Homo sapiens: one gene and its partner. The protein of the gene in region 1 purifies or fractionates together with the protein of each later gene. This does not show direct contact. Each region holds a gene or a part of one and is shown on either strand. Other genes may lie near its edges.

The links.
Region 2: the proteins of SDHB (region 1) and PREPL purify together in Homo sapiens (affinity purification with mass spectrometry; 2 studies listed by BioGRID and IntAct, with this or other methods). This does not show direct contact.

Annotation. Positions count from the first base shown.
Region 1 is NC_000001.11:17,044,017-17,051,047, forward strand, and holds part of SDHB (succinate dehydrogenase [ubiquinone] iron-sulfur subunit, mitochondrial isoform 1 precursor), read right to left. Parts: intron 873-7,031; coding exon 745-872; intron 1-744. UniProt on the Homo sapiens protein: Iron-sulfur protein (IP) subunit of the succinate dehydrogenase complex (mitochondrial respiratory chain complex II), responsible for transferring electrons from succinate to ubiquinone (coenzyme Q).
Region 2 is NC_000002.12:44,317,105-44,323,523, forward strand, and holds the end of PREPL (prolyl endopeptidase-like), read right to left. Parts: intron 6,308-6,419; coding exon 6,158-6,307; intron 5,751-6,157; coding exon 5,627-5,750; intron 5,334-5,626; exon of another isoform or gene 4,797-5,333; coding exon 4,723-4,796; exon of another isoform or gene 4,342-4,722; coding exon 4,252-4,341; 3' UTR 3,536-4,251; coding exon of another isoform or gene 3,095-3,535; 3' UTR 1,092-3,094; coding exon of another isoform or gene 1,014-1,091; 3' UTR 503-1,013; downstream 1-502. Other genes in the region: amino acid transporter heavy chain SLC3A1, read left to right, coding at 3,095-3,535. UniProt on the Homo sapiens protein: Serine peptidase whose precise substrate specificity remains unclear. Does not cleave peptides after a arginine or lysine residue. Regulates trans-Golgi network morphology and sorting by regulating the membrane binding of the AP-1 complex.

The DNA of each region.
Region 1 (7,031 bases):
CTAAGTTTGTGGTAATTTGCTCTGACAGAAATAGAAAACTAACACGCCAGTCCAATTTTTAACATTTTAACCACATCCCTACCTTGTCCATTCAAGGCAAGTTTCTGGCGGTTCTGTTATTATTATAGAAAACACAGGTCCAGATGTATAAGATATAATCAATACATTCAGCATTAAAAAAATGGTAATATATTAAATGACTTTAAATACTGTGCATAAAGTTAATTATACCAGTATTTCTAGAAATTTGTCATACTTTCATTTGGGAATTATTTTGGTATTATTCTTCTGAATCAGGTAACAACCTCATTTTTTTTTTTTTTTTGGAGACAGAGTCTCACTCTGTTGCCCAGGCTGGAGTGCAATGGCATGATCTCAGCTCACTGCAACCTCTGCCTCCTGGGTTCAAGCAATTTTTGTGCCCCAGCCTCCTGAGTGGCTGGGATTACAGGCATGAGCCACTATACCCAGCTAATTTCTGTATTTTTAGTAGAGAGGGGAGTTTCACCATGTTGGCCACATTGGTCTTGAACTCCCAACCTCAGATGATCTGCCCGCCTGAGCCTCCCAAAGTGCTGGGATTATAGGCGTGAGCCACCGTGCCCGGCCCAAGCTCATTCTTGTTTTAAAAACAGAGCCATCGGATGATCTCAGATTTTTAAGCCTTCCAAGGATGTGAAAAGCATGTCCCTAAATCAAATCAAGAACTCTCCTTCAATAGCTGGCTTTCACAGAGATACTCACTTATTAAGGTCAACTTCATAAGTCTGCATATGAGGTTTGTCTCCAGCCTTGTCTGGGTCCCATCGATAGATGGCAAATTTCTTGATACGGGGAGCTGTGGCTGCAGCTGTCTGGGCTCCTCGGGAGGCCTGAAATTTTTTAAAGTTCACAAAAAGGAAAAAAAAATTAGAAATACAAGATAATTCCATTTTGCTGGCACAACAGATGTAACGCTGGATATAAACTCACACATTACTGACACATAATCTTCTTAGAAAAGGCAGGCATTCAATATCCAACAAGTATTAAGCACCTATCATATGCTAATATATCAGACATGGTATTAGGGGCTAGTGACACAGCACTTAATACACAAAAACCTTCATCTTCACAGAACTTACTTTGTAGTGAACAAGAGTTAAATTAAACATTCACGATGAATATAAAGAGCGATACTGTTGGGAAAGTACAGGGAGCTCTGGATGAATACAGCAGAGACTTCAATGAGTGAAGAGTCAGAGAAGGCTTCCTCACATGTCATCTAAGTGGAGGCTTGACAAACCAGAATTAAGGGGAAGGAGTGTGGGGTGTGGTCTGAGGGTGGTGGCTCATGCCTGCAGTCTCAGCACTTTGGGAGGCAGAAGTGAGAGAATTGCTTGAGCCCATGAGTTTGAGAGCAGTCTGGGAAACATGGCAAAACCCCATCTCTACAAAAAATAAAAAAATTAGCTGGGTGTCGTAGTGTGCGTCTCAGGAGGCAGAAGTGGGAGGACTGCTTGGGCCCGAGAGGTTGAGGCTGCAGTGAGCCAAGATCATGCCACTGCACTCTAGCCTGGGCAACAGAGTGAGACTCTTTTTCAAAAATACAAAATAAAAAAGAAAAAAAGAAAGAAAAGACTATACTCCAGGACTGCTAATTTTTAAAATAAACTGATATAGAAAAGTAAAAACTCGGAAGGTTAATTGACTAATTACAAAAAGATGCAGTGGTGTTTATTACTGAGGCAGGAGAACAGGGTTTAGAGACAGGGAGTCTTCACTACAGCCTCTGATTCGTCTCGGGCCAAGTCTTCATTTGCATAGGGTGTAACTAATAGGAAACCCGTACAGGGTACTTTAATCCCAGAAGACTGTGCAGCTGGGGCTCTTGAACCACTTGCTCAATCCCACTCCTACTCTATGGAGTGTACTTTCATTTCAATAAATCTATGCTTTCGTCTTCTGTTGCTTTGCTTGTGTGTTTTGTCCAATTTTTTGTTCAACATGCTAAAAACCTTGACGACTTGTGGTCAAGACCGTCTACCAGTAACATTATTTCTTGGTAAAGTGTCCCGTATTAACTGAAGCTGAAAATACAAACATCAGCTAACAGTAGAAAAGAAGAAAATATATGAAGAAAATGAAAGTTAAGATGAAAGCTATGTTTTACCTTATCACCAAGCTGGCTAAAATCATCAACAAAAGGAAAGCCATTTCTACAAATGTTTTTCACCGGGAACCCCATTTTGTAAACTGACATGAACATCTAATGCCACCTTGTGGTATTTGGGAGGAAGTGAGAGGAAAGATTCCTGAAGGTATCAACTCCAGTGGACTTTGCTTGCTTAATGTCCCATTTTTTTTTTGGTCTTTTTTCTGTGAGATTTAATAAGGTATAATTCATTATAATAAAATTCACTAATTTTAAGGGTATAATGAGTTTTGACAAAGCAATGTAATCCTACCACAATTACAACAGAGTATTTCCATCCAAAAAGGTCTTTTGTGCCCTTGATGGCAAACATAAGTCCCCTTTTCCTACCCTTAGCAACTGATCAGCTATCATCACGAGTCTGCCTTTTACAGAATTCATATAAATGGCATCATACGGTACGTAGTCTCATGTCTAGCTTCTTTCACTCAACATAATGCTTCTGAGATTCATATGTTACTGCATATAACCATAGTTAAATGCTTTTTTAAAAAATTAAACTATTTATTTATTTATTTATCTTTGAGACTGAGTTTTGCTCTTGTTGCCCAGGCTGGAGTGCAATGGTGCAATCTTGGCTCACCACAACCTCCGCCTCCCCGGTTCAAGCAATTCTCCTGCCTCAGTCTCCCGAGTAGCTGGGATTACAGGCATGTGCTACCAGGCCCGGCTAATTTTGTATTTTTAGTAGAGATGTGGTTTGTCTATGTTGGTCAGGGTAGTCTCAAACTCCCAACCTCAGGTGATCTGCCTGCCTTGGCCTCCCAAACTGCTAGGATTACAGGCGTGAGCCACCGTGCCTGGCCAACCTTTTTATTTTTTAATAATTATAGATTCATATGCATTTATAGAAAATAATACTGAGGCCAGGTGCAGTGGCTCACACCTGTATCCCAGTACTTTGGGAGGCCAAGACAGACGAATCACTTGAGGTCAGGAGTTCAAGACCAGCCTGGCCAACATGGTGAAACTCCGTCTCTACTAAAGATACAAAAATTAGCCCGGTGTGGTGGCACATGTCTGTAATCCCAGCTACTCGGGAGGCAGAGGCAGGAGAATCGCTTGACCCTGGGAGACGGAGATTGCAGTGAGCCAAGATTGCGCCACTGCACTCCAGCCTGGGTGACAGAGTGAGACGCTGTTTCAAAGAAACAAAACAAAACAAAAAGAAGAAAATAATACTGAGACTCCACATACTCTTCTCACCTGTAATCCCAGCACTTTGGGAGGCTGAGGTTGGGAAATCACCTGAGATCAGGGATTCAAGACCAGCCCAGCCAACATGGTGAAACCCCGTCCCTACTAAAAATACAAAAAAACGAATTAGCAGGGTGTGGTGGCGTGTGCCTGTAATCCCAGCTACTAGGGAGGCTGAGGCAGGAGAATGGCTTGAACTTGGGAGGTAAAGGTTGCAGTGAGCTAAGACTGTGCCACTGTATACCACCCTGGGTGACAAAGTGAAACTCAAGCTAAAAAAAAAAAAAAAAGAGAGAGAGTTTTGCTCTGTCACTGATTGTGCAGTGGCATGATCACAGCTCACTGCAGCCTCAACCTTCTGGACTCAAGCGATCCTCCCATCTCAGCTTCCCCAGTAGCTAGGACTACAGGCATGCGCCACCATGCCCAGTTAGTTTTTTTACATTTATTTTTGTAGAGATAGGGGTCTCACTGTGTTGCCTAGGCTGGTCTTGAACTCCTGGCCCCAAGTGATCCTCTGCCTGGCCCTCCCGAAGAGTTGGGATATAGGCATGAGCCACCATGCCAGGGCCCACATACTCTTTACCCAGTCTCCCCAACAGGAACATCTTGCAAACTGTAGCACACCAGCACAACCAGAATACTGACAGTGCTAGTCAAGATAGGGGACATTCCCATAAGCACAGGATCACTAACATTGCCCTTTTATAGCCCTGTCCACTTCCTCCCACCCTACCTCCCCTGTACTCCGTAAGCCCTAGCAATCACTAATCTGTTCTCTACTTCTCAAATTCGGTCATTTCAAGAATGTTATATCAATATAATCATCTGGTATGTAGCCTTTTGGAATTGGCTTTTTTTATTCAGCCGAATTCTCCGGAGATTCATCCAAGTTGCTGTGTACAGCAATAGCTTTTTTCTTGTTATAGCTGAGTAGCACTCCAAGGTATCATGTACCACAATTTGCTTAACCATGTAACTACTGAGGGACATTGGGGGTGTTCTAATTTTTGGTGACATGAATAAAGCTGAGATGAACATTTGTGGACAAATTTCTGTGTGAACGTTACATCTTCATTTCTCAGGATAAACACCCAGGTGTGTAATTGTTGGGCTGTATGGTAGCTACAAGTTTAGTTTTTTTTAAGCAACTGACAAAACTATTTTCCAGAGTGGGTGGCTGCTGTGCCTGAGGCAGATAGTAGGGTAAGTGGGACAATATGCCTTTTAAAAAATGGGGCTACTTCAAGTTTTTACTTCTAATTTGGACACTTTTATTTTTCATTTATTTTTTAAAATATTTATTTATTTATTTATTTTGAGATGGGGTCTCACTCTTGTCCCCCAGGCTGGAGTACAATGGCGCGATCTCGGCTCACTGCAACCTCCACCTCCCGACTTCAAGTGATTCTTCTGCCTCAGCCTCCTGAGTAGCTGGGACTACAGGTGCCTGCCACCACGCCGAGCTAATTTTTATATTTTTAGTAGAGACGGGGTTTCACCATGTTGGCCAGGCTGGTCTTGAACTCCTGACCTCAGGTGATCCGCCTGCCTTGGCCTCCCAAAGTGCTGGGATTATAGGTACAGGCCACCTTGCCCGGCCTTTATTTTTTATTTTTATAGACACATGGTCTAGCTTTATTGCCCAGGCTGGAGATCATGGCTCACTGCAGCCTTTAACTCCTGGGCTCAGGCGATCATCCTGACTCAGCCTCCCAAGTAGCTGGGACTATAGGTGCACACCATCATGTCCAGCTAATTTTTGTAGAGACAGGGTCTTGCCATGTTGGCTAAGCTGGTATGGAATTTCTGGGCTTAAGCAATCCTCCCATCTCAGCCTCCCAAAGTGTTGGGATTACAGGTGTGAGCCATTGTGTCTGGCCCTAACTTGGACTTTTTTTTTTCTTTTTTGGAGAGTCTCATTCTGTTGCTCAGGCTGGAGTGCAGTGGCGCGATCTTGGATCGCTGCAACCTCCACCCCTCAGGCTCATGCAATTCTCCTGTCTCAGCCACCCGGGTAGCTGGGATTACAGGCATGTGCCATAAAGTCCAGCTAATTTTTGTATTTTTAGTACAGACAAGGTTTTGCCATTTGGCCAGGCTGGGCTCAAACTCCTGGCCTCAAGTGATCCACCTGCCTCAGCGTTCCAAAGTGTTGGGATTACAGGTGTGAGCAACCGCGCCTGGCCCCTAACCGGGCTTTAAACAGAATCTGGGACTGGAGCATAATCCCCTAGTTCTTTTTTTTTTTTTTTTTTTTTTTTTTTTTTGTGAGACAGTCTCACTCTGTCACCCAGGCTGGAGTGGAGTGGCGAGATCTCTCTGCCTCCTGGGTTCAAGCAATTCTCCTGCCTCAGCCTCCCAAGTAGCTGGGATTACAGGCGCGTGTCACACGCCCGGCTAACTTTTTTGTATTTTTAGTAGGGATGGGGTTTCACCGTTTTAGCCAGGATGGTCTTGAACTCCTGATGTCGTGATCCACCTGCCTCAGCCTCCCAAAGTGCTGGATTACATACAGGTGTGAGCCACTGTGCCAGGCATAACCCCCTAGTTCTAAAGCCTGATTTAGTATTGTCAGTGGGCAACAGGCATTAGGCTCTATCAAGCTGGGTATCAGAACCACAAGGCCTGTGGGATGACTGTGGTTACCTGCAATGAGGTTTTCCCTTCAACATTTCTTTATAACATTTAAATATCTGTTTCATATCCACTCTACACGGATAATTGATCACGTATTATCTTTCCAAAAGAGACTAAGTTTGTATTAGAGCTAATTTAAATTTTTAAAAAGTCTTATCATATGAATGATGTGAAATAAGAGCAATGCCAGGATGTACTACACTGAATATCTAAGTCGACATATCCCAACATCAGTTTTGGAGTGCCCCAAAATGTCATCATTTTTTTTTTTTCAGTACAACTAATTTAAATTTGTTTTGTGTCAAAAATGTATTTTATAGGCCAGGCGTGGTGGCTCATGCCTGTAATCCCAGTACTTTGGGAGGCCGAGGCAGGTGGATTACCTGAGGTCAGGAGTTCGAGATCAGCCTGGCCAACACGGTGAAACCCCGTCTCTACTAAAAATACAAAAAAATTAGACAGGCACGATGGCGGGCACCTGTAATCTCAGCTACTTGGGAGGCCGAGGCAGGAGAATTGCTTGAAATCCGGGAGGCGGAGGGTACGGTGAGCCAAGATTCCGCCACTGCACTCCATCCTGGGCAACAACGTGAGCGTGACTCTGTCTCAAAAAAAAAAAAAAATGTATTTCATACAATATTTGGTGGGGCAAAGGGGGTTTACCAGAATGAAAGAAGATTCTGAAATCAAAATCACCAGAGTGGTCATGGTTCTGAAAGTGATAGAGCTTTGCTCATCTTGAGGTCTGTACAAAGAGTTAATTCTCAGGATTATGTTATCTGTGTTCCACCAAAAAATTCGTTGAATACATATATCTAAAAATTTGCCAGATTTCATTCATCGAACCTTTATAATCTGTCACACACGGTGCCAAATAATCTCTAATCTTTATAACATCTCTATGAAAAATGTTTTGTTGTTCCCAGTTAAAAGACGAGGATAGGATCATATAGCAACACAGGTCACTTGATTCAAAAATCCAACCTTTTAGCCATTATAA
Region 2 (6,419 bases), on another chromosome or scaffold:
AACTCTAGATTTGAGCTGTTCAGTAGCCATTAACCACTGTGACTATTACATTAAATAGAATTAAACATTTAGTTCCTGCTGGGTATGGTGGCTCACGCCTATAATCCCAGCACTTTGGGAGGCCAAGACTGGAGGATCACTTGATCCTAGGAGTTTGAGACCAGCCTAGGCAACATAGTAAGACCCTATCTATCTCTTAAGAAAAAAATTAGCTGGGCATAGTGGCACACACCTGTAGTCCCAACTACTCAGGAGGCTGAGGTGGGAGGATCACTTGAGCCCAGGATGTTGAGGCTGCAGTGAGCCATGATCATGCCACTGCACTCCAGCTTGGGCAACAGAGGGAGATTGTGTCAAAAAAAAAAAAAAAATTCAGTTCCCATGTCATAGCAACACTTCAAGTGCTCATTAGCTGCCATATTGGATGGCTCTGATATAGAACATTTCCAGCATTACAGAAAGTTCTATTGGCCAGCATTGTTCTAGACATTGAGAAACATTATTTTCAAGTGGTCATAATTTTAATGGTAAAATTAGGACATAAAAATAATTTTCAAAGAATTATTTTCAAAGAACACTAGACATAAAATATAACAATTTTCAAATTTTCAAAGAATACTAGAAGAAAAAAATTATACAGTCAATCCAACAAAAAGCTTAATAGAAAAAAACCCTAAACAATAGTATAACTACAAATAAAATAGGGCTTCCGAATTATGTCTAAATAATACAATAATTACAAATATGAATGGGTTAAATTAGCCTATTAAAAGATAAAACCACTCAGATAACAAAAACAGACATAAGAAACACTAACATAAAACACAAAGAATTAAAATGAAGATATAGCAAGCAAATAATAGAAAGCTTGCAACCCAGCTATAGCTATAAACACAAAAAATGAAGTTATCTTTTGACCTAATAATTCCATTCCTAATACTTAGAAATATTTGCACATGTGCACAATAATACTTAAAGGATCTCAACACTGTTTTTTTTTTTTTTTGAGACAGTCTTGCTCCGTCACCCATGCTCGAGTGCAGTGGCGTGATCTCGGCACACTGCAGCCTCTGCTTCCTGGGTTCAAGTGATTCTCCTGCTGCAGCCTCCCAAGTAGCTGGGATTACAGGTGCACGTCATTATGCCCGGGTAATTTCTGTATTTTTTAGTAGAGATGGTGTTTCACCATGTTGGCCAGGCTGGTCTTGAACTCCTGACCTCTGGTGATCTGTCTGCCTTGCCTCCCAAAGTGCTAGGATTACGGGCCTGAGCCACCTTGCCTGGCCTGCAAAATTTGTTTTTAATAGAAGACACAAGAAATGATTTAAATATTTTATCAACAGAAAACCAGTTCTATCAACTATGGGCCCAGTATGCAGCTTTTAAAAATGACAGTTCTATATACATTGATATGAGACCATTTCAAACAGGTATTCAATAAAGTATAGAATGGTAACATATCACCAACTGTGTAAAGAAAAATATATAAACATATGAAATGATACATTCTGTGCCTATGCAAACATATGATACATTAAAAACAAAAGAACATATAGTGCCTGTCTCTGAGGGGAACTGTGAAGCTATGGAAAGGTGTTGAAGAAAACCTTTTTATAGTATGTATTCTTGTAATTGAATAAAAAATAAAATTACAAAAATCAGGCTTGGAAGTATTTAATAGCAGACAAAATATAGTTCAATATGAAAAGCATTATATGAGACAAAGGCAATTTTCAAAAATTGATAAAACATTCCACCAAAAATCATGACTACGCATCTAACAGCTTCAAAATATAGAAAATACTCAAATGCAAAATCAACAAATCTGCAATTACAGAAAAAGACTTCAACATACTTTTAGAAAGTAGTAACTCAAGTAGACAATAATAGCTAACACTTACCGGGCACTTCTTATGTGAGTGGCACTGAAACATGTGCTTTCATGCATTACCTAAGGCTAGAGAAAATGTTAATAACTTAGACAAGTCATACATGTATCATAAATATCTTTGTACCTGACAAACAGAATAAACATCTTTTTAAACACCATTAGATAATTATTTAAAGACCACATATTGGGAACCTACCCCTAAAGAACAATAACAACCACAATAACAACTATCACCCCAGTAAACATGGCTGGCAAGAATACAATTAAATGAACATTATCACTGATTTGGCAACAGCTCTTATGAAGAATAATTTGGCATTATGTATCAAGTGCCCATACTCTTTGACAAAGTAACTGTCTTTCTGATAATCTATCTTAAGTAATACAAAAATGGGGGGAGGGGAATAAAAATACAAAATATTAGAAACACTATCGTCAAAATGAAAGGGCATGGCTGAGTATGGTACAACCGTTCAACAGAATATTGTCATTAAAAACATTTATGGAGGCTATATTATATAGTCAATAACAGAAAATGCTTGAAAGGTTAGAAGTACATCATCAAATTATGTTTTATATAGCTGTAAAATAAACCCAAATCATCTTTAATGAACACATACTATTATGGTAAAAAAAAGTCTACAATTTCTAACTTTCACCTTAGGCAGCTTTTTATTTTGCATCCTTTTTTTCAACTTTGTCTTCTATTAGCTGTGCAAGAAATACATGTCTGCTAAAGTTACACGATCTTCGCACAACAGCAACCTACACATTAGTCTACAAAGGGGAACAAACCCAAATTCCTCAGAAGTCTGAGTCCACTGTTGCCTTCTTTCTGGCCATCTGGCAGTTACAATATAGCACAGAATGACTATGCAAGTTAAATATTCATCTTAGACATGGACATTTGCTTTGGGACTCCTAAAGTGGAGTCAAATTTGATCTCTACAGAAACTCTACAATGTAGCAGAGCACTGTGCGTACTTATTGACTCCCAGACAAGCCGAAACCCCGAATTTGTCATTTCTATCAGTTTTTATATAAATTGTTCTTACCTACTTATTGATGCTTACAATTTGGCAATTATAAGGGGCAAAATTGGAGCAAGTGTTTTGGGTAAATAACTCCTTACAATATATTAAAAATACTTACAAACAATTCTTAGAATCAAACACTTACGTAAATACTTTTTTAAAAAAATAGGTCCAAAAGACTCAGCCCAGATCGGCTTTGAAGTTATATCAAGATTTAAGTCTACTTCATGCCAATGAGCTACTCCTCAACAGGGGCTGGTTTTGCCATTTGAGGAATGACAGCCACTATGTTGTGTACACAAGAGAGCTGGATGGCATCGACAGAATCTTTATCGTGGTTCTGAATTTTGGAGAATCAACACTGTTAAATCTACATAATATGATTTCGGGCCTTCCCGCTAAAATGAGAATAAGGTTAAGTACCAATTCTGCCGACAAAGGCAGTAAAGTTGATACAAGTGGCATTTTTCTGGACAAGGGAGAGGGACTCATCTTTGAACACAACACGAAGAATCTCCTTCATCGCCAAACAGCTTTCAGAGATAGATGCTTTGTTTCCAATCGAGCATGCTATTCCAGTGTACTGAACATACTGTATACCTCGTGTTAGGCACCTTTATGAAGAGATGAAGACACTGGCATTTCAGTGGGATTGTAAGCATTTGTAATAGCTTCATGTACAGCATGCTGCTTGGTGAACAATCATTAATTCTTCGATATTTCTGTAGCTTGAATGTAACTGCTTTAAGAAAGGTTCTCAAATGTTTTGAAAAAAATAAAATGTTTAAAAGTAAATTATGGCTTATAGGAGCTTATAACTTTATTCAGATAGCATCAATCAGGGATGACCAGAACACATTAGGACCCCAGATTATTCAAAAACTTTAACGAATTTTAAGGGGAAGAATTTTATCTTTTCCCTTAAAATGCAGTCATAGAAATTAGAGGATGACTCACTGCCACAGTGTCTAAAAGCATTTGCTAGCAAAGAGGCAGGACACTAATTTGTAAACTGCTCAACTGTTCTGACTGGAAGGGAGGCCTGGAGCTCTGCTATCACCAATCCTTCCCTTCCCTCTACTCCACATCCTTCTAAGGAGCATGATTTGAAAATTACTTTCCTAGGTTAATGGGCATGTGCATCAATGGAGAGAATAGTATAAGCAAGTGAGATGTAGACTAAGCAAAATTTAGATGGAGAAGCACATTTTAAAAAATTAATAACTTAAAAGTCTCAAGTTATTAATTTTTTTTTTGCTAACTCAATTGGAAGTAAGACTATGAAATATTTCAGTGTGTTTCCAATTCCCAGTTGAATGCAGTGTTTCAGAATTTCAGGTATTTCTTAAGATCCTCGAAAACACTGGTGCTGTCAAGTCCAAGTTCCTCGTACAGGAATTTAATTTGGGCTGTAATCTAAAAGAAACACATTAAAAAAATTAAATAGAAGGCCTTTGTAGTAAAATGCCACTGTTTAAGCTTCTCTTTATCTATCCATCTTTACCTAACCGTGAAGTCAGCAATTTATGGCAAGAATACTTTCATTCGAGAGAGAGGCAGAAGGCTTCCAACAATTAAGATTAAATTATTTTCTTTAACAGAGCTCACGTATCAAGTACAAGAGAGAGACATTTCTCTTGATTGACACAGTGTCCCTCCCTCCCCTCCTGGGTCTCACCCATAGATAGGACATTTGTGAAGTGGCTTTGTCATAAACCTGCTGCAACCACTGAAAATGTGAAAACAACATGTATCTAGTTCGGGAATCTGTCCACTGAGAGGGCCTTGATAACATACCTTTTTGTGAGAATCCTCAATTACATGATTGCCTCCAGGCTGAATATCTAGAATAATATTAGGGGTCTGATAGCCTGGAAGAGTTAACATGTAGAACAATTAGAAGATTGTATGGGATCTTCTTTGGAAGATCGAGACCCATTCCTCCCCTCTTCTTTGAGTACTCAGTTCAAATAATAGTAAAGGAATAAAAAGCAAAAACCACCATCATCAACAAAAAGATGGGAGGGGACAAGCAACAGAAGACAAACTTCTGACACAGCGAAAGCAGGAAGAGGCCGTATGGAAAAGACTATATGGTGCCACACGGACAAGGTTGAAACCCAGGAGATCATCAACCTGCCCTGTGGAATCTGAGAGTCTTATGCCCTGGAAACACCAACTACAGCAATGGATGGGGGTGACAAATGGAGATGAATACAGGGAGACTGATATGGCATGTAGTTTCAAGGCAAAAGGGAGGGATTCTTATCTCATAAAGCTGAAACAGCTAGCTAGAGGAAATTCATGCAGCTAAACAGTTTGGGCACTGATGGCCCAAAACAAAAATCTCAGAATCTGTCTTTTAGAGATTCCCAAGAATAACGGCTCAATAAATATTGTTAAATGAATTAATAATTGTATGGCAGTGCATCTCCAAGTTATATCTGATTCTTAAATTTCCTGTTTCCTTTGTGTCCTGCCTATCTATTTTAATACTGTCCTTTGAAAAAGAGGTGAGGCAGTGTATGTATAGACATGTAGTTACGTACACTTTAACTGGGGAGTCAACATAGCAAAATAATTGTTTGCCCTAAATCCTGGGCAGATGATTTGGCTACAGCCTGAAATATATTCCTCTGAGCAGTGTGCTGTGGGTAGTAGTCTGTTTGGCCATGTTCCCTGCTTCTAGGGGGTCTCCTACCTTCACCTGTGTCCTTAGCATGCTCCGCGATGGCTTCCTTGAGTTTCTCAGTATAACTTACAATTCCTTTCAGAGGTACCCGTTCATCGTTTTCATATGCCGTTATGTGAATTGAAGGATAATGCTGAAAGAAAATACATGCACGAAGAGTTTACATTATTTCTTATGGTCCCTTGCCACTATAGAGACTATGAAAAATAATTACCTCCAATTTTTCCCTGTAAGTGCTCTATGCTTTTTCTCACTTGCTATCTTGAGAGCGCCTCAGTATTACAGTAGTAGACTACTTGTTATCTGGAATAGCCTTTTCTTGACTAAAGGACCTTAGCTAATTTAGTAATTAAGGCATGATAAGTCTATTCCCCTGAGGTATTAAACATGGAGCATGAGCAGAGATGGTGCTGAAGATATTTGGGCATCATAAGTAGAAACATCTCTAAAGCTCCTATTTTTGCTTCAGCTTGGATAAGTTTTTTTTTTATTATCTTCTGTGTAAATTCAGGATAATCTAACACAATTGTCTTTCACTACCTGAGGTTTAATATTTTGATAGGGACAGTAACGTTTTATGTAGTTCTTGTGTTTTTCATCAGATGAAGGATTCCCCCATTCTTCTAATTCTTCTAATGTCAGAGGAAGTGTAGTGTCCATCATGGTGTTGAGAACATCCAAGAAAGGTGCCTAAAAAAAAGGCAAAGAAACTTATACTTCAAGTAAGAGGTTGGTAAGTGAGTTTCAGAAAAACATTCTATTTTATGAATATACATACTAATATGAGAGAAAATAACTCAAG